Linked DNA regions of Homo sapiens. The protein of the gene in region 2 purifies or fractionates together with the protein of the main gene of each other region. This does not show direct contact. Each region holds a gene or a part of one and is shown on either strand. Other genes may lie near its edges. The genes, in order: CNPY3 and SLITRK4.

Region 1 (9,394 bases), on a different chromosome or scaffold from region 2:
ACGAGGGAGCAGCGTAAGGTCAGTGCACTGCCCTGGGCCTCATCCTATGCCCATGCCTCCCCTCACCCCAAGACAACCCTGGGCCTTCCCAGCACTTGCTGCTCCCGAGAGTGGGTGGGTTTTAGCCTTCCCCTCCTCAGCCCCACGGGCTGGAAGGCGAGGGGCAGGAAAGAACAAGAGGCTCCAGGGCACCTCTGAGGGCTGCAGAGGACTCAGAAATCAGAACCAGAACATTTTTACTCTTTGGGCTCTGGGAAGGGCCAGGCAGAGTGCAAGGTGTCCACAGGAGGGGTAAGCAGAGAGGAGCTACAGGGGGCTGCAGTCCTAGTACCCTGTTGGGGAGGACTGAGGGATGGTGAGTTTGGTCTCCGGAGGGGGCTCCAGTCCTGGTGCCCAGTTCTGACACCTGCCCCTCCTGAGTTCACACTGGAGTCCTTGCAGTCCTGAAACCACAAGGCCTGCCTGAACCCTGGGTCAGGAGAGAAACACTTGGGGAGGGGAAAGGACGGCGTGGGCTACCCATGACGGCTCTGAGTTCTTCCTGGGGCTTGTGTCTTTCCTTGGCAGAAGAGGGCACAGCCAAGGCAAGGAGGGGCTGAAGGCTGCGGGGCCATCCCGGCCTGCCAGAGCCATGCCCCTGACTCCTCAGCTTCAAAATCAGGGGTCTCAGGACAGAGGATGCTGGGTGGGCTCAGAGCTCATCAGGGGGGCTGTGTGTGAGAGGGGATGCCTTCTGGATGCCCTCATCCTCCTCGGGGCTGGGGTCTCCCTCAAGGCCACCCAGCTCCTTCCTTTGTTTGCTGCTGCTACTCCTGCCGCCTGCTGCCTTGGCCCTGCTGCTCTTCTTCTTGGACTTCTTCCCTCCCAGGGCAGCTGTGTCTCCCTTCTTGCCGGACCACTGCTCTGCCAGGCAACCTAGGGTGTGGAGGAGAGAGACCCTCAACAGAAGTGCCTCAGGGCTGGGGTGCTGGGCAAGGAGCACTGAGCAGGGAGCCGTGGGAGTAGCAACTGGGACTGTGCTTGACATCAGCCTCCCTGCCTCCTGCCTCTCGCTGTGGCCACCAGGCCCCTCTGGGGGCATCTGACTTGTCTGCCCATCATTCTGCACCTGGTTTCAGTGACTCTTACTTCACCATGTCTTGCCAATCAAGCCTTTCAAGGGCAGAGATCCTACAATGCCCTCTGGTGCCCTCTGTTTCTCCTCCTACCCACCTCCCCCAAGGGAGAGCAAACAAATCATCCAGAGCCAGCCTGCCCTTGCTTCCCCAAACTCACTGGTGTCTTTTCCCTTCAGCACGTGGTTGGCGCAGAGGAATTCAGTCAGGTCTTCCTCCTGGTGGTTCCTGTACCAGTCCTCGATCACCTCCTCAAACTCTTCCACCAGCACATCACACTGTTAATCATAATACCTCATATTGGCAAAGCCCCAGCACCTGACTCGCTCCTAGAGGAGCTCAGCTAAGCCTCGCAACCCACTGCAAGGTAGGCAGTGGCAGCGGTTCACCTAAGGAAACTGAGGCCAGAGAGGTGAAATGACCTGACCAAAGCCACCCCGGCCTGGGTGGACTTCCTCAGAGCAGACCCAATCCCCACCAGCCCCTCACTGGGCACAGCAACCCTTCCAAGGGCTGAAGGGCCTGTACCTGCTTCTTGAGGTCAGCCACCTCTGCAGAAGTCTCGTTCCACAGCTCATAGGGGATGTCCATCACCACCTTGACCCCTTTGTGTACCAGGTTGTGTAATGTCTCAAAGGTCTCTGACATGCCCTGGAAGAAGCGACCAGATATGGCAGGCGGAGCTCCCTTCTCTCCCTCCCACCCTCGTCTCCCAGTGGTGGCTAAGAACCCAGCTATAAGACCAATGCTCAACGCCCTCTAAGGATCCTCATCCTTTTTTTTTTGAGAAGGAGTCTCACTCTGTCGCCCAGGTTGGAGCGTCTCAGCTCACTGCAACCTCTGCCTCCCAGGTTCAAGCGATTTTCCTGCTTCAGCCTCCCAAGCAGCTGGGACTACAAAGGCGTGCCACCATACCCGGCTAATTTTTGTAGAGTTGGGGTTTTGTCATGTTGGTCAGGCTGGTCTCGAACTCCTAGCATCAAGTTTTCCACTCACCTCAGCCTCCCAAAGTGCTGAGATTACAGGCGTGAGCCACCGCACCTGGCCTCATCCTTGACCTGACCTTCCTCTTCCCTCTTTTAGGCCTGCTTCCCACAACCCCTGCACATATACCCCCTGATCTGCCTCTGCACACCTCATCGCTTCAAAAAGACCTGCGGCTGCCCTCAGGCCCTTTGGCTTTATGCTTCTTTTCCAGGAAATAGGTTTGTCTTAGCTCTTTCCCCTCACTATGGCTGGAAACACTCCCATATCATCCAGACCTGCTGTTCCGTTCTTCCTGGGTTGTGTCTTTCCTCAGTGGGAAAAAGGCATAGCTGAGGCAGGTAGACCCTTTATTCTGTAAAAACTATCTCTGCTAGCTGCCTAGGTCTTATCCCCAGAGAAAACATACTATCCATTTCCTCTATTTTCCCAGAGATAACTCATACAAATACCAATATCTAAATATATCCTCCCCCCGCCTTTTTACACAAGCAGTGGTATAGCATACACACTATTTTGCACTTGCCCTTTTTACTTATACCTTGAAGGGCTGGGTGCAGTGGCTCATGCCTGTAATCCCAGCACTTTGAGAGGCCAAGGTGGGCTGATCACCTGAGGTCAGGAGTTCGAGACCCCCTGGCCAGCATGGTGAAACCCCGTTTCTACTAAAAAACACAAAAATTAGTCGGGCGTGGTGGTCGGTGCCTGTAATCCCAGCTACTCAGGAGGCTGAGGTGGGAGAATAGCTTCAATCTGGAAGGTGGAGGTTGCAATGAACTGAGATCGCACCACTGCGCTCCAGCTTGGGCAACAGAGTGTGAGACTCTGTCTCCAAAACAAACAAACACACAAAAACCTTGAAAATCAATTGAATTCAGTTCCTAAAGAGCCTCCCCATGCTTCGTTTCCAGCCGCATACTAGTCCACCAAACGGCTGGATCAACGTATTTAATCCCCTATTGGTAGAGTTAGATTGTTTCTCATTTTTTTCCTGCTATGAAAAATAATTCTTAAACACTTTTTATTAAAGCAAACACAGATTTATTACTGAGTGCAAAATTCATACAAATTTCTGCTGCTTGAGACTATTCCCTTAGGTATCCCAGGAGTTTATGAATGGTATCCTTTGCTAGAAGGAAACTTAGGTAGAAAAATGTGGGTGGCAACTATCTTACCCTGTGCCAGGCACTGAAGATGTAGAGAGTAAGAACTATGGGCCTTGTTGTAAGCAGCTCATTCTCCAGAGAGAAAAGCACTCGTACACATACTGAGTACATGGGCCATCACAAGGGCATCCCAGCGGGGTTGTGGGAGGTGCTGTGTGGACCCAGAGATGGGACTGGGCAGTCACTCCCACCGAGGTGTCCTCTGACACCTCGCCTAAACCCCCACCTTTCTGCACATCGTGGATCTTGCTGAGTTCTCCCCGTTCTAGTGTCTTTAGGTTCCCACGGGGGCAGCAACTGTGGAGCATTTCTGCCTGTGTCTGAGATTGAAGCAGGACCCTCATGAACAGGCCCAGACCCTCATGCATGTGCCTGAAAAATGAGGCCACTCAAGAGGGGAGGAGCACAAACGGCAATCAAAGAATGGGAAGAGGCAATGAAGGAAGATCCCAGGTGGTCATCTTCAAATCACACTCACACCAGCAGACACACTAAGATACATGCAGGCCTGACCCCAGAGCGGATGAAGGACAATCCCGAATCCAACCTTGGCAAATCGATTGCTGCCGGTCCTCTCCTTGTGCAGGCTATAATCCAGGAGCCTCTTGCAAATGGTCTCAGTGACTTCGATTAACCGCAAGTCCCTGCCAAGACAGGAGGATGAGGAACTGAGTTCCCCTCCTAGCCGCAGTGGGTTAGTGGTCTGTCCCTCCAGCCCTGTGCCCCAACACCTGCACATCTCACCAATGGGAAGTGACTCAGAGCTGGAAGGAAGATAGGTCATCTGGTCTGGGGGATCTGAAATGCTGGAACACAGACCAGAGAGACAAAATTTTAACAGCTCTAAGGGAAGGAATTTTTTATAAAGCTAAATGATTCAGTATTTAGATTTTTTGATAAAGCAAAATTATTAAATTTTGATAGTAAAATATCATTCTCTTTGAAAGGATGATCACAGCTGACAGAATTGGGTTTTTAAAAACTATATTTGTACCTAGCAAAATAAAAAGCTGGTAATCCTGTTACTAATGTTTTAAAAAATTGCACTGTGGCCGGGTGTGGTGGCTCACACCTGTAATCCCAGCACTTTGGGAGGCCGAGGCAGGCGGATCATCTCAGGTCAGGAGTTCGAGACCAGCCTAACCAACATGGTGAAACTCCATCTCTACTAAAAAAATACAGAAAATTAGCTGGGCGTGATGGCACATGCCTGTAATCCCAGCTACTTGGGAGGCTGAGGCAGGAAAATCTCTTGAACCCGGGAGGCAGAGGTTGCAGTGAGCAAAGATCATGCCATTGCACTCCAGCCTGGGCAACAAGAGTGAAACTCCGTCGCAAAAAAAAACTTGCATTGCTCTGTGAAATCCAAGCGTCTGAGAATCAATGATATAGTCCAACAGTCTTGCTTTTAGAGATGAGAAATCTGCTGAAGCATAAAGAAGTTAAGAGATTTATGCACGTCACCCAATTAGCTGGGGACAGAATCAGTGGGCAAACTCAGGTCTTGGTTACAAATGATGCCCTTGTAGGGGGTTTGCCTAGCTAGGAGAAGGGAACTCCAAACCCCTGAAGCCTCCAGCAGCAACGCAGGCCAGGCCAGTGAGTCCCCATTCACTTACGACTTGGTGTATTTGACTCCAGAGGCCTTCTGGTCCAGGATGCCATAGCCCGTGCCAATCACCTCCTTGGTCTTGCCGGTTTCCTCAAAGGCTGACTTCAGCTCCACAGCAACATATTTACACACTGGGGGAGGGAGGTAGCACAGCCCACTGAGTGCACATGAGTCTAATGGGAGGCCAGCTCCCAGCAAAACAGATCCAGGTGGGCATCCTTTCCTAGACTGGAGGACCAAAATCAGCACTCAAGGCAGGGAAGGAGTTAGAACCTGTGGAGGCTAAAGCAACTCCATCTTGGATGCTAATGTGCCATGTTGACTTCTGATTAACCCCAGTTTCAGGAATGCCTCTAGGATTTCTATTTTATCTACTGTTTCTTGTGTAAGAGCATGTACTTACTGTAAATCCTGCCCTTAAGCAATTGTTCTTCGTATTCCTTTTTTTTTTTTGAGATGGAGTTTCGCTCTTGTTGCCCAGGCTAGAGTACAATGATGAGATCTCAGCTCCTGGGTTCAAGCGATTCTCCTGCCTCAGCCTCCCAAGTAGCTGGGATTACAGGCATGCACCACCATGCACGGCTAATTCTGTATTTTTAGTAGAGACAGGTTTCATCTTGTTGGGTAGGCTGGTCTTGAACTCCTGACCTCAAGCGATCCGCCCACCTCGGCCTCACAAAGTGCTGGGATTACAGGCGTGAGCCACCACGCCAGGGTCTATCATTTTACTTTCTAAAATTGCATACATACAGAAAAGCTGAAAGAACACAATGAATACCTTCCACTTGTATTCAACAGTTGTTAATAGTTTGCCACATTCTCTCTTCAATATATAATTATAATATCTCAACAATATATACATTTCTTTTGCTACACCATCTTGAAAGTAAGTGGCAAACATGACCTTTTGAGATAAATATATCATCATGTATCTCCTGAGAAAAAAGACCTCCTCCTACATAACCATAGAACAATTATGATACTTGGAAAATTAACAATTCCAACATCACCCAGTAGTCCATATTCAAATTTCCTTAATTGTCCCCAAAACATCTTTTATGGTTGTTAGATTACTTGATTTCATATGTGTTCCAACATCAGCTCTATTTCTACCAAGTTAATTTGCTCCATGCCCTCCAGAGAGCTCTTGTTCCTACTGTCTCCGCACATTTATTTCCTCATTTCCTCTTACCCTTCCTCAAATAGGTATTAGGCAACTCCTACGTGTCAGCCTGGGGATACAGAGATGAAAACAAGGTCCCCTCCCTTCCAGATACTCAGTCTAATGCAGCAGATAAAGGTGTAGACAAATAACTACCACTGTATAGAGTGCTACAGTGCTACCACCGAGGGTGTGAAGTGCCTGAGGCCCTAGGAAAATACTTAATGCCTTCTAAGGGCTTCTCTGCCCATCCTGCCCACCTCGCATTATAAGCCTCTCCCCCAGGAAGCCATTCTGCACTAATGCCAATTGCTCTAGATTTCACTCTGGGCCTCTGCAGGATCCATGCTCTCCCTAAGGACCCTCAGTCATTTGATGTGTCTCTCCACATAGACCACAAGGGTCCCCAAAATGTGCATTATGTATTAGATTTTTTCGTATTTCCTTAGCCTGGGACTTGATATATGCTGGACGCTCGATAAATCTTGTTGATAGAGACCGTCTTCTGATGCCTCTGAATGGAATACCAGTCTGAAGGCTAAATGCCATCAGCAGTTTTAACACTGACAGCACAGTCTGCTAGAATACCAATTTACCACAAAAATAAATACATCCCCTGGAGGCCTGCTTGGTGAAATTAATCAATGGCTTGGAGAATTTGAAACACATACAAATTCCAAGTAATAAGCTGGTGATCTTCAAGTCTGCAATGAACTGGGGATGTCTCACCTCCCCAGCTCTCCATCCAGGACCATCTGGGCTCCCTCCCCTCTTCTGTCCTGTACTCTGTGCAGGCACATCATTTTTCTAGCACCACTTGCCCCTCCTCCCACGCCCTCCCCAGGAGTGGGGAAAGGGGAGGTTTGGAACATCCTTTCTCTCTCATACCCATCAACCACAGCCTTGCTTTCCAGCTCTTCCAAACATTACCTCTTCAAGACCTCCTCTGCGGATCCCACCCAGAACCAGACTCACAGGAGATTCACGGCACAGACACCAGACCCTCACTGACATCCACCCACTCTTTTTTTCCGGGCAGGTTCTCCTTCCTCTGTGCCGAGGCCTGTTCCACTCAGGCTACTGAGCCAGGAGGCAGGCTTGGTGGGCTAGACACAGTCAGCATTTAATAACAAAGGTGTAATAATAATACAAACAAATATACTATTAAGATGAACCTAACGGTTGGAGTTTGCCAAGCCATCCTGTGACTGCAAATCCCTTTTCAATTAATCTTCATCAGTTACCAAATGAGGGTAGACTAGAATGATCTCTAGATATAGAGATATAGAGATCCTGGGCATCTCTATGCTTCCGTGAGTCTGTGAATGTTGCCTAAGGAGAATAAATGTGAGCTCCTTAGGCTATGAGAATAATAAGAGGGAGAGTATGGGCTCTTTGATATCAGAATAAGACAGAATACAGGCTGGGCACGGAGGCTCATGCCTGTAATCCCAGCAATTTGGAAGGCTGAGGTGGGAGGATCACCTGAGGTCAGGAGTTCAAGACCAACCTGGCCAACATGGTGAAACCCAGTCTCTACAAAAATACAAAAATTACCCGGGCATGATGGCAGGTGCCTGTAATCCCAGCTATTCAGGAGGTTGAGGCAGGAGAATCACTTGAACCCTGGAGGCAGAGGTTGCAGTGAGCCGAGGTTGTGCCATTGCACTCCAGCCTGGGCAACAGAGCAAGACTCCGTCTCAAAAAAAAATAATAATAATAATAATAAGACAGAAAAGAAAGAGAAGAGGAAGCGAAACGCTGAAAGGCTATCAGTTAGCTGGGCTGGGTGCAGTGGCTCACGCCTGTAATCCCAGCACTTTGGGAGGCTAAGGTGGGTGGATCACCCGAGTTCAGGAGTTCAAGACCAGCCTGGCCAACATGGTGAAAACCCGTCTCTACTAAAAATAGCCGGGAGTGGTGGCACACACCTGTAGTCCCACCTACTCGGGAGGCTGAGGTAGAAGAATCCTTGAACCTGGGGGACGGAGGTTGCAGCGAGTCAAGGTCGCACCACTGCACTCCAGACTGGGCAGAGCAAGACTCCGTCTCAAAAAAAAAAAAAAGGCCAGGCACGGTGGCTCATGCCTGTAATCCCAATACTTTGTAAGGCCGAGGAGGGTGGGTCACTGGAGGTTGCGGTGAGCCAAGATCGCGCCACTGCATTCCAGCCTGGGCAATAAGAGCGAAACTCCATCTCAAAAAAAAAAAAAAAAGCTATCAGGACTAGAGGAAGAGCGAAAAGTGAAAGGGCGGCCAGGAGCAGAGGCTCACGCCTATAAGCCCAGCACTGTGGGAGCCCAAGGCAGGTGGATCACTTGAGGTCAGGAGTTCAAGACCAGCCTGACCAATATGATGAAATCCCATCTCTACTAAAAACACAAAAATTAGCTGGGCATGGTGGCATGCGCCTGTAATCCCAGCTACTCAGGAGGCTGAGACAGGAAAATCGTTTGAACCTAGGAGGCAGAGGTTGCAATAAGCCGAGATCTCGCCACTGCACTCCAGCCTGGGCAACAGAGCCAGACAGTCTCATAAAAAAAAAAAAGGAAAAAAAGAAAAGAATGTACGGGGGAAGGCACAGGCTTGAACTCATACTGGGTGCCCTACCAGTGAAGTCGGCTTATCTCTAAAGCATCCTTTTAATCTCTCTAATGGAAGGATTATGTGTCCGAAACTTACCCCAAACCCACTTTCCAGTGTTTAGGGAACATCTGGCCTGATGTAGGCTTTCAATTCAGATGAGAGATTCACAGCCAACTTTCTGGGGGCCCTGGGGTTACGGGGCTAGGAAGGCAGGCATGACTGTAAGGTCTGAGGAGAAAACTAAGGGACGGAGTTGAGGAAAAAGAAATAGGTCCTTTATAGTCCTGGCTCGCTGGTAGCTCCCTCTCTCTCTCTCTCTGTAGTTCCTCAACGCCTATGTCTTTGGGACTCACCTTTTCTCCAAAGTCCTAAAATCTTCTTTCAAGTTCCCCATAGGCTCTATTGTTCCCCCAAAGGGCTCCTCAGATCCAGATCCTCCTCCTCACACACACCCACAGTCTCCCATTTAATCATCTGTATTCTCAAAACATTTATTGAGTGCCTACCAGACACTGTGTGAATACGTATCTAAGACAAAAATTCCTGCCTTCGAGGAGTTGTTAGTGGGTGCAACAGACAACTACACAGATTGGGTTGCAGTGAGGGCAAAAGGGGAAAGTCTTAGGTTTTTTTCCCCCAAGATGAGTCATCTGGAGCTTTTCAGTTCCTCAAACTCGTTCTTAGCTTCTCAGCCGGCAGGCCTCTGCCTCTGTAGTTTCCTGAGTGGGCCCCTCTCTTTCCACTTCTCTTCATCCGGCTAACTCCTAAT
Region 2 (9,390 bases):
ATCGGTTTACTCCTGTACACTGCTGCCTTCAAAGACACAGACGACGCTGTGCGGTTCTAGAAAAACAACTGAGTAAGGGATGGCCAAATTTTATTTTCTGGTAAATAAACAGTCTCTAATTTCCTGTCAGTCATCTCCCAAAGAGGGAGCAAAAAGCCTTTTGTCTTGGAGCCTCTGAAAGCAGCAGAGTAACCTGCTTACTCCTGCATTGCTTAGCTAATCTCCAGGCAGTCTTTCCACTTTGAGAACTGGCTCTCTTGCCTCCCTGGCCCTCTCCCACATCTTTATTTACCATTTTGAACCCAGGTCCGACTGATCCTCGGCTTAACTGCTTTATCTCTTTCACTTTGACCACAGACTGCAACTGCTGAGGAAGGGGAGTTCACACAACACAATCTTTGAGTAGCTTTTGCTACAGCACCAAATATGTTCAGTACAGCACATTTTTCGTCCTAAAATCATCAGTTCCAAACACCCACCCGCCCTTCCTAATATTACCACCCCATGTCCCTGACTGTAAACGCATAAAGAATCACTTGTTGGTAGAGTTTAATGCTTAGCAAAATAACTCATCGTTTTCAGGTCCTTAAATACTGCATATATACACAAACATACACGATGCTTCCTGGAAAAGATTAAACAACACAAGCAGAGTGCATTTTATTGATACTATTTTAGCAATATTAGTCTTTTCCATTGTGAATGGGAAGCTGGGTGCAATTTCAATATCGTTATCTCCAAATATTAATTAAATACATAAAATACCCAGGAACACACAACAAGGAAATGATGCAAAGAAAGAAGTGTCGCACAGAAACTCCTTTGTTTATTTTACCCACGAGGAATCAGCTAGTGGTAAAACCGAACATGTCTCAAGGTAGACAACCCATTAGCCATGACCCAGGAGGATTTGCATTTTAAGTAGTTTGGTTCAGAATACAGCCAGCACTGCTGAGATGCTATTTGGCTGCCATATAGACGTGCATTTCCCCTATTCACCATGAGAGCATGATTGGCATTGCAAAAAGAAGTCATAATTCTTAACTATGACATCACCTAAAGCAACTTTCATTGTAAAATCAAAATTTCACTTGATATTTTTTGCCTTGTTATGAATGTGGTTTTCAACAGCTATTTTGGTTCAGTTGAGTCATTTCTTGTTACTAAACCACCACCCCACCCACCTCAAAACAAAGAAACCCAAAAGCAACCAAACTAAAAACCAAACGCAGAAAAAAAAAAATCCTTATAATCCGAATTCAGTACAAAAACAAGAACCAGGAATCTCAACACATCTGAAAATGCATAAGGAGCTGCCCTCCTCCTGGTGATTGCTACTTTAAGTAGCAAGGGGGGGAAAAGGCACTAGTAAGAGCCAGGAAGTTCCCAAATGCAGCTCTTGTGAAACAGAGGAAGCCACAAGCAGCTGGAGGGGCAGGCAAGAGAGAGAAAGAGTCCAGTTGGTCCACCAAGGAGAGAGGAAAAGAGGTACTGAAAGGGCAAGAGACCATGGAAATGTGGAGAAAGGAAGAAAAAGAACTCGGAGAAGGGAGCTACAAAGAGGGTAAAGGGAGCACTGAATGTATGCGAATAAAGCCTCACACTCCGGTGGTACCACTGAAACATGCACATTTAAACATCAAGGGAAAAACGCAAAAAAGAAAAGAAAAAGCCCACAAAGTACCAGCTGGGTACCAAGAGCCTTCTCTGTGGCTGCTGGGAGCTGTCCGTCTTCCTCTCGGTGCCCTGAAAGACCCTTGGCTCTCACGACCAGCCAGGACTGAACAAACCTAGCCCGACCAAAAACAAATCCTGCATCCACCGGAGTGCAGCGCCTGGCACTCCGCGACTGGGAGGAGAGAAGCGGCCTGAGGGGGGCAGAACACTGATGGGCTTCAGGGCGGTGGGCCGAGGTGGCTCCCCGAGAGCTCCCTCGGGAAACCCCGCTGGCCCGCCTAAGGCTCGGATGGAGGTGGAAGAGGTTCGCGGAGAGACCCGGCCATTGCCGCCCGGGTGCGCTACCTCGGGCGGGCGGCGAGGAGGCTGGAGGGGCTGCTAGCGCGTACCGCAATGTTTTGCCGCATCCCTGTTCCCGGAGCCGGCCGCTCAGCCCCCTCCGCGTCAGGGGCCCAAGCAGCAGCCTGGCGGTCCGTGTAGCGGAGGCGGGGTACCGCGCGGGATGTCGCGGGGGCCTTCAGTCCCGCCGCTCACACATTTCTCCGCGCGCTCCCGTCCCACAAGGGGCAGCTGCCGGAGTTTCAGTGGACCTCTCTAGACCCAGGCGTGCGGTGGGTGAGGAGGAAGAGAGGCCAGATCAGGCCGCCTCGAAGACGTTGGCACTAGGGAGTCACTGACCTGCTTGCCACGGGCAGAGTGACCCTGTGGTTTTGTGGCTGCGAGCGGCGGCCCAGGCTCCCCCTTGCCTGTTCTCCCTCCCTGGCCAGCTACAAAAATCCTGCTCTCACCATGCCAGAAATCAGCTCAACATTTAGGCCCCTTGCAAAGTCGCGCTGGCAGCGCTCGCCTGGCTTTGCAGAGCTTTTAGAGTTACCCACCGGCTCTTCCTCTGGTATTCCTAGTCTTGCCGAGCGCTAGCAATCTCCGACCAACCCGCGGGCCACTGCCCCGAGCCTCAGATCCACGTCTGCGGAAAGTGGCTGCGAGTGGGGTGCAAAAATAAAGCCCAACCCAGCCCAGCGGCCCGACAGCCGGAGCCACCCGAGACCTGTACAACTTGCCCCGCCGCCCTGGCCGCTTGGGGTATGGTGGGGGGGGGGGCGGGCAGCGATGCCAAGGACACCCGGATCCTTTCCGGTCCTCAGCGGCATGAGACCGCGTCGTAGGCAGGCAAGTGGGAGGTGGAGGGCAGGATTAGCCACCTCGGCCACTTTGGCCACTCAACCGGCCCCAAACCAACAGGACCCAAACTAAAAATAATAAGCTACCTGCCCCCTCGGCTCGCGTGCGCGCGCGCGAGATCTCTCTCTCTCTCTCTGTCTCTCTCTCACACACACACACGCACGCACACGCGCTACTGAGCTGAGCGGGGAAGAGGCAGCACGCGTGTCGGTGCAGCTTGTGCAGCCCCCGCTGAAAATTCACCCACCTCTAGAGCCCAGCGTCTGGTGCAGGGCCCGCGGCGCCGTGACCTGCGCTGCTGTTTCCACGATGGTATCTATGTGATTCCGGACAGAGCTCCTCCGCGCCCGCTCGCCCGTCAAACCCACGGAGCAGCCCCAGCAGGCGAGCAGGCGGGCCGGCGGGCAGGCGGGCAGCGGCGCGCGCGCGCACCCGAGCAGACACCGCGCGCGCACCCAGCGCCTAGCACACGGGCTGCACCTTTACATACACGCGCTGAATCCCCGCCCCCGCTCTCCACCACCCCCCCCCACCCCGCACACAAGCAGTCCTTCCTCCCGACACTCGACCACTTTGACCCCCTCACATTCCTGAGCTCCTACCCCCGTCCCCCATCCAGACATGCCCATTTGATTCCTCTTCTACCCACACACCCAGAAAGACAGCGCGCTTTCCTCCCGGCATCCGCCCCCTCTTTTTGCCTAAAACATTCCCTAGGGAGGAGCGACCCCTTTCCTCAGGCGTGGAGACCCCAGTCCTCTAACAAGGGCGCACTCGCCTCCATCCCCCCCACCACATACACACACACTCGAGCCCTTTTCTTCTCTTCCAGTCCCCTAATAACGAAGGAACACACACACACACACACACACACACACACACACACACACACACACACGGGGCATTCCTTTGAGAGAGCAACCAAGAAGCCAGGAAAAGCCAAAGAAACACTGGAGAGCCTGGGGGAGGGGGGCCGAGGGAGATCGATAGGGTCGTCGAGTCTACGCGGAATTGAATAATTACAGGATGGAGGGGAATGAGTCAACAACAATGACATTCAAATGCAACAATCATACTTGGATTTTGTATCACGGGTACGGTACCTTTGGCTAATTGTCACCCCGCAGAACGGAGGGCTCCTGGAATACTTCTCCGTGGCGGTCGATCCTGGAAGGAGCCTTCTTGGGAACCAATTTCCTAGGATCCAGTAGTATTCGCACTCCCCCTACCTGTCTGCGCGTAAGGGGCCAGGGGCTTTAAGGCGAAAGTGTGAGGCTTTAGCCTAAAGTGAGACTATTTAGCCGGGTTAGAAGGAGACGGGTTAATTATCCGCACCTTAGAACTCCGTGGGCCTTTGGTGCAGAATGGGTTAAGCCGGATGATCTTGGAGCTGGGGGTGGGGATAGGGGATAGGGGATAGGGGTTGAGGAAAGAGAGGCGTGGGACTGGGAGAGATGCCGCACTTGCGACCAAAAGAAAAAAAAAAAAAAAAACTACTTTGGCTACTGAGCATGCCCAGTTCCCAGCTCAAGCCCTATAAGGGAGGCATTGTGTGCATTCCACTTCTCCGGGCTTTGGTGGTGACCGGGAGGGGAGTTTGACTGGGGAAGGGGGTGGTAGTTGGGAGACATTAGGGAAAGGGGGTTGGAGAACAAGGTTTGAAGCTTTGGGACTGCTCAGGAGGGACTGTGAAGAGAGAAAGGGAAGGGACCCACGGAGTACCTTCGGGAGACGGGGAGAAGGAGAGGAAATGGACTAAGAAAAGTCACTTCAGTCGCCCCTCATTGTGTATACCAAAGAGGCTTTAGCAGCTGAATCTGAAATATCCAGTGGCTGCAAATCCAACGTGTGGATTGTCTAGGCCCCTTCTTCTACCCTTTTTGTTAGTGCTTCCACAAGAGATAAGAAATATTCTGAGGAAGGGCCAATGTTCAAACCAGTTTCATGCAAATTGATAATTTCGTTAATAAGCTTGTTAAGAAAATAAATAAACCTGGGGGAGGGGAGCAGAGAGGAGTTGGCTATCATGTATGTATTTCAGATACCTGGCTTTCCTAAACAAAAGGCATAAACATTGGATGTGCTCCCATCCCCCAACCTTGCTGTTTTTTGTAGGAGCTTGGCTAAGAAAAACAACTCTCTCTCTCTTCGTGTCTGTGGGAATAAACTAGCTTTAGGTAAGTAGAGCTAAGTTATAAATGGGAAGTATTTCCCTAGGACTCTTGGTAGCCTATTATTTGCCACATTCAGGTAATACTGCCAGGCCCATTTCTTCAGGACCAGTGTGTTGCCCAATTTACTTATTCAAATCCCAGCGGCTCTAGCCACAATAGAGCACAACCGGTATCCAGAAATGTTCTTGCTTAAAAATGAAAAAAAAAATCTTTAAGCTAAAACTAGCAACAGCTTTGAAACCAGAATTTGGCTGTCTGCCTGAACTCCTACAGTTAAACATTTACCATAATTGGTTGATGTTTAAAGGCCCCAAATCTAGGTAGAAACATCTGATGGGCAAAGGATTTATTACATTATTTGTGAATAATGGTCTACCTTCTGTATCATCTATAGTAGTCATTCATATACATGTTTCATTGTTTTTCATTTTTTGTCATTTTATGGGACTTCCGTCAGGTTATATTCACACAAATGTTCACCGGGCACAACATGTATACAGAGATGCACGTACAATATGTAAATGAATACTTAAATAGATATGCGTGTATGGGCATATTTCTTTATGACCTTGCTAAATATTGTGTCGTTCATGAAGAACTCTTTCTCTACCTTCACTCCACATTGCCTTGAAAACTGTAATCATCCTCTCTTTTACAAACAACCTAGAGACAGAAATTGGGCAGCATTGGTAAAATTTATCTTATTCAATGTGAAATCCATTATGAAATAGCATTAAGGAAACACTAAAATATTTGTCTATAACAGCGTATGTAATTGTGCAGCTCCTTTTAGCAAAGTGAATGATGTTTCCTTCATAGGTAACAGCTGCAGAATGTTGAAAAATCCCTCTACTCTTGCACACTTGGACAAAACAGATCCTGCTAATTAATAACTCACATTTGCATTTTATTGTGTAATGCAGTTTGAAAGTAGTAATGGGTATCAAAACAAGTTGGCATTTATTCTAAATGCTAACAATTCAGGAAGCTGAATATATTTTATCCAGATAGGTGAAATGTTTGTCTTTTACTACAAATGTTAACAAGAGTCAATAGAATGAGCAAAAAAAGTTTACCTGAAAATTCTAAGTAATGTGATAACTGAAAAGGCCAGATTTGGACAGTAAATATCAGATGATTTAAATGCCTATCTTTATTCAACTTTAGAAACTGTTCTGAGACTTGGCTATATTTAACTGCAATAACTGTGAAATGTTATTTTTCATATGGATATGGAGACAAATCTGAAAGCCACTGTAGCTAGATCATCGATAAATTACAATTCATAATATTCCTAAGAACTTATCTGTGATTAATATTCAACTTTTTTAAATGAATGCTTTAAAATAAAATGTTTTGCTACTTAAAAAGATAAAGTGGACACTCATAAAATAAAACAGAAGTAACAACTTCCATGTTTTATGCTTATTTTGCTTTCAAAGTAATTAACCCAATCCTTTAGTCCCACAGTCCCTTTTCCGTCCCCTAGAACTACAGGTGACATCCCAATAGAACAGTAGGAAATGACACAGAATTGCTAGCTTAACAAAGGAAGTGAATATATACATAAATAAAAGTGTTAAGAAAACTCCAGCACTATTTATGGCCATTGAAAGAAAAACAAAATTGATGTTCTTCCTAAAATGTAAGCATGCAAATATTGTGAGTTTTGCAATACTCTCACGGTCTTCCTCCAAATGTTTTACCTTATTTCATCTTGACTTTTTAGGAGTACAACCAGAATCGTAGGTCTACACTGATATACTGTGTCTCCCTCCATCAGGGAAAAAAACAACTGCACTAAGAATTTCAACAAGATCCTGTATACCCTCCGTTCCGAAGGCAGTTTGGAATTAAGTCATTAAAACACTACCAACCGAAAGTGATTATAATGCCAAGTCTTGGCCCTAGTCAGCGGTCTTTCACTTTCACTGTATTCCTCATTTATCTTGCCTTGTCTTAGGCTGCTGCTCAAAATCAAATCAGCCTTAATTTTCGTATCCAGGTATCACAGATGATTCAGTGTATTTTAATATTGAAGATTTATTTATATTCTGGCATTTTAACAGTTACAAACTTGCTATTTCTCTTTCATTTTTATTTATTTATTTTTGAGACAGAGTCTCACTCTGTCACCCAGGCTGGAGTGCGTTAGTGTGATCTCGGCTCACTGCAACCTCTGCCTCCTGGGTTCAAGCAATTCTCCTCCCTCAGCCACCTGAGTGGCTGGGATTACAGGCATGTGCCACCATGCCCGGTTAATTTTTGTATTTTTAGTAGAGATGGAGTTTCACCATGTTGTCCAGGCTGTTCTCAATCTTCTGACCTCAGGTGATCCGCCCATCTCGGCCTCCTAAAGTTCTGGGATTACAGGCGTGTGCCACCGTGTCCGGTCACACACTTGCTATTTCTCTAAGTGGAATACAAGAAAGTTCTTAGGATGTTAATATATCTTCTGGGAAGAAATGTTTCCATGATCAAATAAGTTTAAAAGACCCTTGGTTCCGTAAAGCTAAACATTTTATTTTTACTTTGGGATTTTTCAACACAATTAATTATGTTTAAATGAGCTTTTATTTACCAAGGGAAAAGGGATATGGCATGTGGCATTTCACAGACTTACTTAACAATGGAACCCTTTTTTCTATCTATATAATTTGAAAAACATACTAATAGCCCATTTTTACAAATTTTCTGGAATTTAGAACATGAAAGGAAGTTTTCAGATCATAATTAACCCATTCAATAGTAGCTACTGTCTGTTGAGTGCCTCTTCTTTGCTGTGCTGCCTACAAATATTATTTCATTTAGTTCTATGAACAAGGAAGGGATTATCATACTTATTTTAAAAATGAGGTTAAGTGACCAGGCATGGTGGCCCATTCCTGTAATCCCAGCACTTTGGGAGGCTGAGGTGGGGAGATCACTTGAGCCCAGGATTTCAAAACCAGCCTGGGCAACATGGGAAAAATCGTCTCTACAACAAATACAAAAATCAGTGGTGCATGGTGGCACATGCTTGTAGCCCCAGCTGCTTGGAAGGCTGAGGCGGGAGGATCACTTGAGCCCAGGAGGTCAAGGCTGCCATCAGCTGTGGCCATGCCACTGCGCTGCAGCCCAGCCAACAGACTGAGACTCTCTCAAAATAAAATAAAATAAAATAAAATAAAATAAAATAAAATAAAATTCAGGGAAGGTAAACAGTTTGCCCGAGGTCACATGGTGAGTAAGTGATGGTCAAGATTTGACCCCAGATCTTTGAGGTTTTTCCAGTACACCACATTTTCGTTTTCACAGGGGGATTAGGGAATTTTTAACTTTGAAAGCAGAATAGACTTGAAAGCTGGGCAGGGTGACTTAACGCCTGTATTCTCAGCACATTGGGATGCCAAGACAAACAGTCTGGGCAGCAAGGTGAAAAGCCATCTCTTTAAAAAATAAATTTAAAAAAATAGCCAGGCATCGTGGGGTGCACCTGTAGTCCCAGGTACTAGGGAGGCTGAGGTGGGAGGATCGCTCAAGCTTAGGAGGTCAAGGCTGCAGTGAGCCATCATCAAGCCACTGCACTCTAGCCTGAGCGACAGAGTGACCCTGTCTCAAAAAAAGAGAAAGGGATAGATTTGAAAGCAGAATAAATTTTCCAAAGATGAATACTTGAGACATAAATGTTTTCAAGTATTAAAGTATGAATACTCAGCACAGGAATAAACAAATAAATGACATTAAAAACAGTTCACATCAATTATGCATGACAAGGTCTCTTGAATCAACTGATTTTACCTTTTGCCAGTAGTAGCCTTGTTCTATCCATTCTGCTCTTTCAACTCTCATACCTGAGTTGATTCTGAATCTGTGATGATGTCTCAAATGTTCCTTATTAGGGATAATCACTTTCACTATCACCAAATGAAGCCATGTGTATTAGTCAGTGTTCTCTAGAGGGACAGAACTAATATATATACACACACACACACACACACACACACACACACATATATATATACACACACTTATATATTTTATATATACATATATATATATATATATATATATATATATATATATATATATATGGGAGTTTATTAAGTAGTATTAACTCACATGATCGCAAGGTCCCCCATTAGGCTGTCTGCAAGCTGAGGAGCAAGGAATCCAGTCTGAGTCGCAAGGCTAAAGAACTTGGAGTCTGATGTTCAAGGGCAGGAAGCATCCAGCATGGGAGGAAGATGTAGGCTGGGAGGCTAAGCCAGTCTCACCTTTTTACATTTTCCTGCCTACTTTACATTCCCTGGCAGCTGATTAGATGGTGCCCACCCACATTAAGGGTGGGTCTGCCTTTCCCAGCCCCCTGACTCAA

The links.
Region 1: the proteins of SLITRK4 (region 2) and CNPY3 purify together in Homo sapiens (affinity purification with mass spectrometry; 2 studies listed by BioGRID and IntAct, with this or other methods). This does not show direct contact.

What each region holds. Positions count from the first base shown.
Region 1 is NC_000006.12:42,930,089-42,939,482, reverse strand, and holds the end of CNPY3 (protein canopy homolog 3 isoform 1 precursor), read right to left. Parts: intron 5,106-9,394; exon of another isoform or gene 5,009-5,105; coding exon 4,885-5,008; intron 4,072-4,884; coding exon of another isoform or gene 4,010-4,071; intron 3,947-4,009; coding exon of another isoform or gene 3,910-3,946; coding exon 3,813-3,909; coding exon of another isoform or gene 3,729-3,812; exon of another isoform or gene 3,118-3,728; intron 1,767-3,117; coding exon 1,644-1,766; intron 1,394-1,643; coding exon 1,276-1,393; intron 916-1,275; coding exon 692-915; 3' UTR 189-691; downstream 1-188. UniProt on the Homo sapiens protein: Toll-like receptor (TLR)-specific co-chaperone for HSP90B1. Required for proper TLR folding, except that of TLR3, and hence controls TLR exit from the endoplasmic reticulum. Consequently, required for both innate and adaptive immune responses.
Region 2 is NC_000023.11:143,631,773-143,641,162, forward strand, and holds the start of SLITRK4 (SLIT and NTRK-like protein 4 precursor), read right to left. Parts: upstream 4,330-9,390; 5' UTR 3,963-4,329; intron 3,320-3,962; exon of another isoform or gene 3,107-3,319; intron 2,732-3,106; exon of another isoform or gene 2,356-2,731; intron 1,810-2,355; exon of another isoform or gene 1,685-1,809; intron 1-1,684.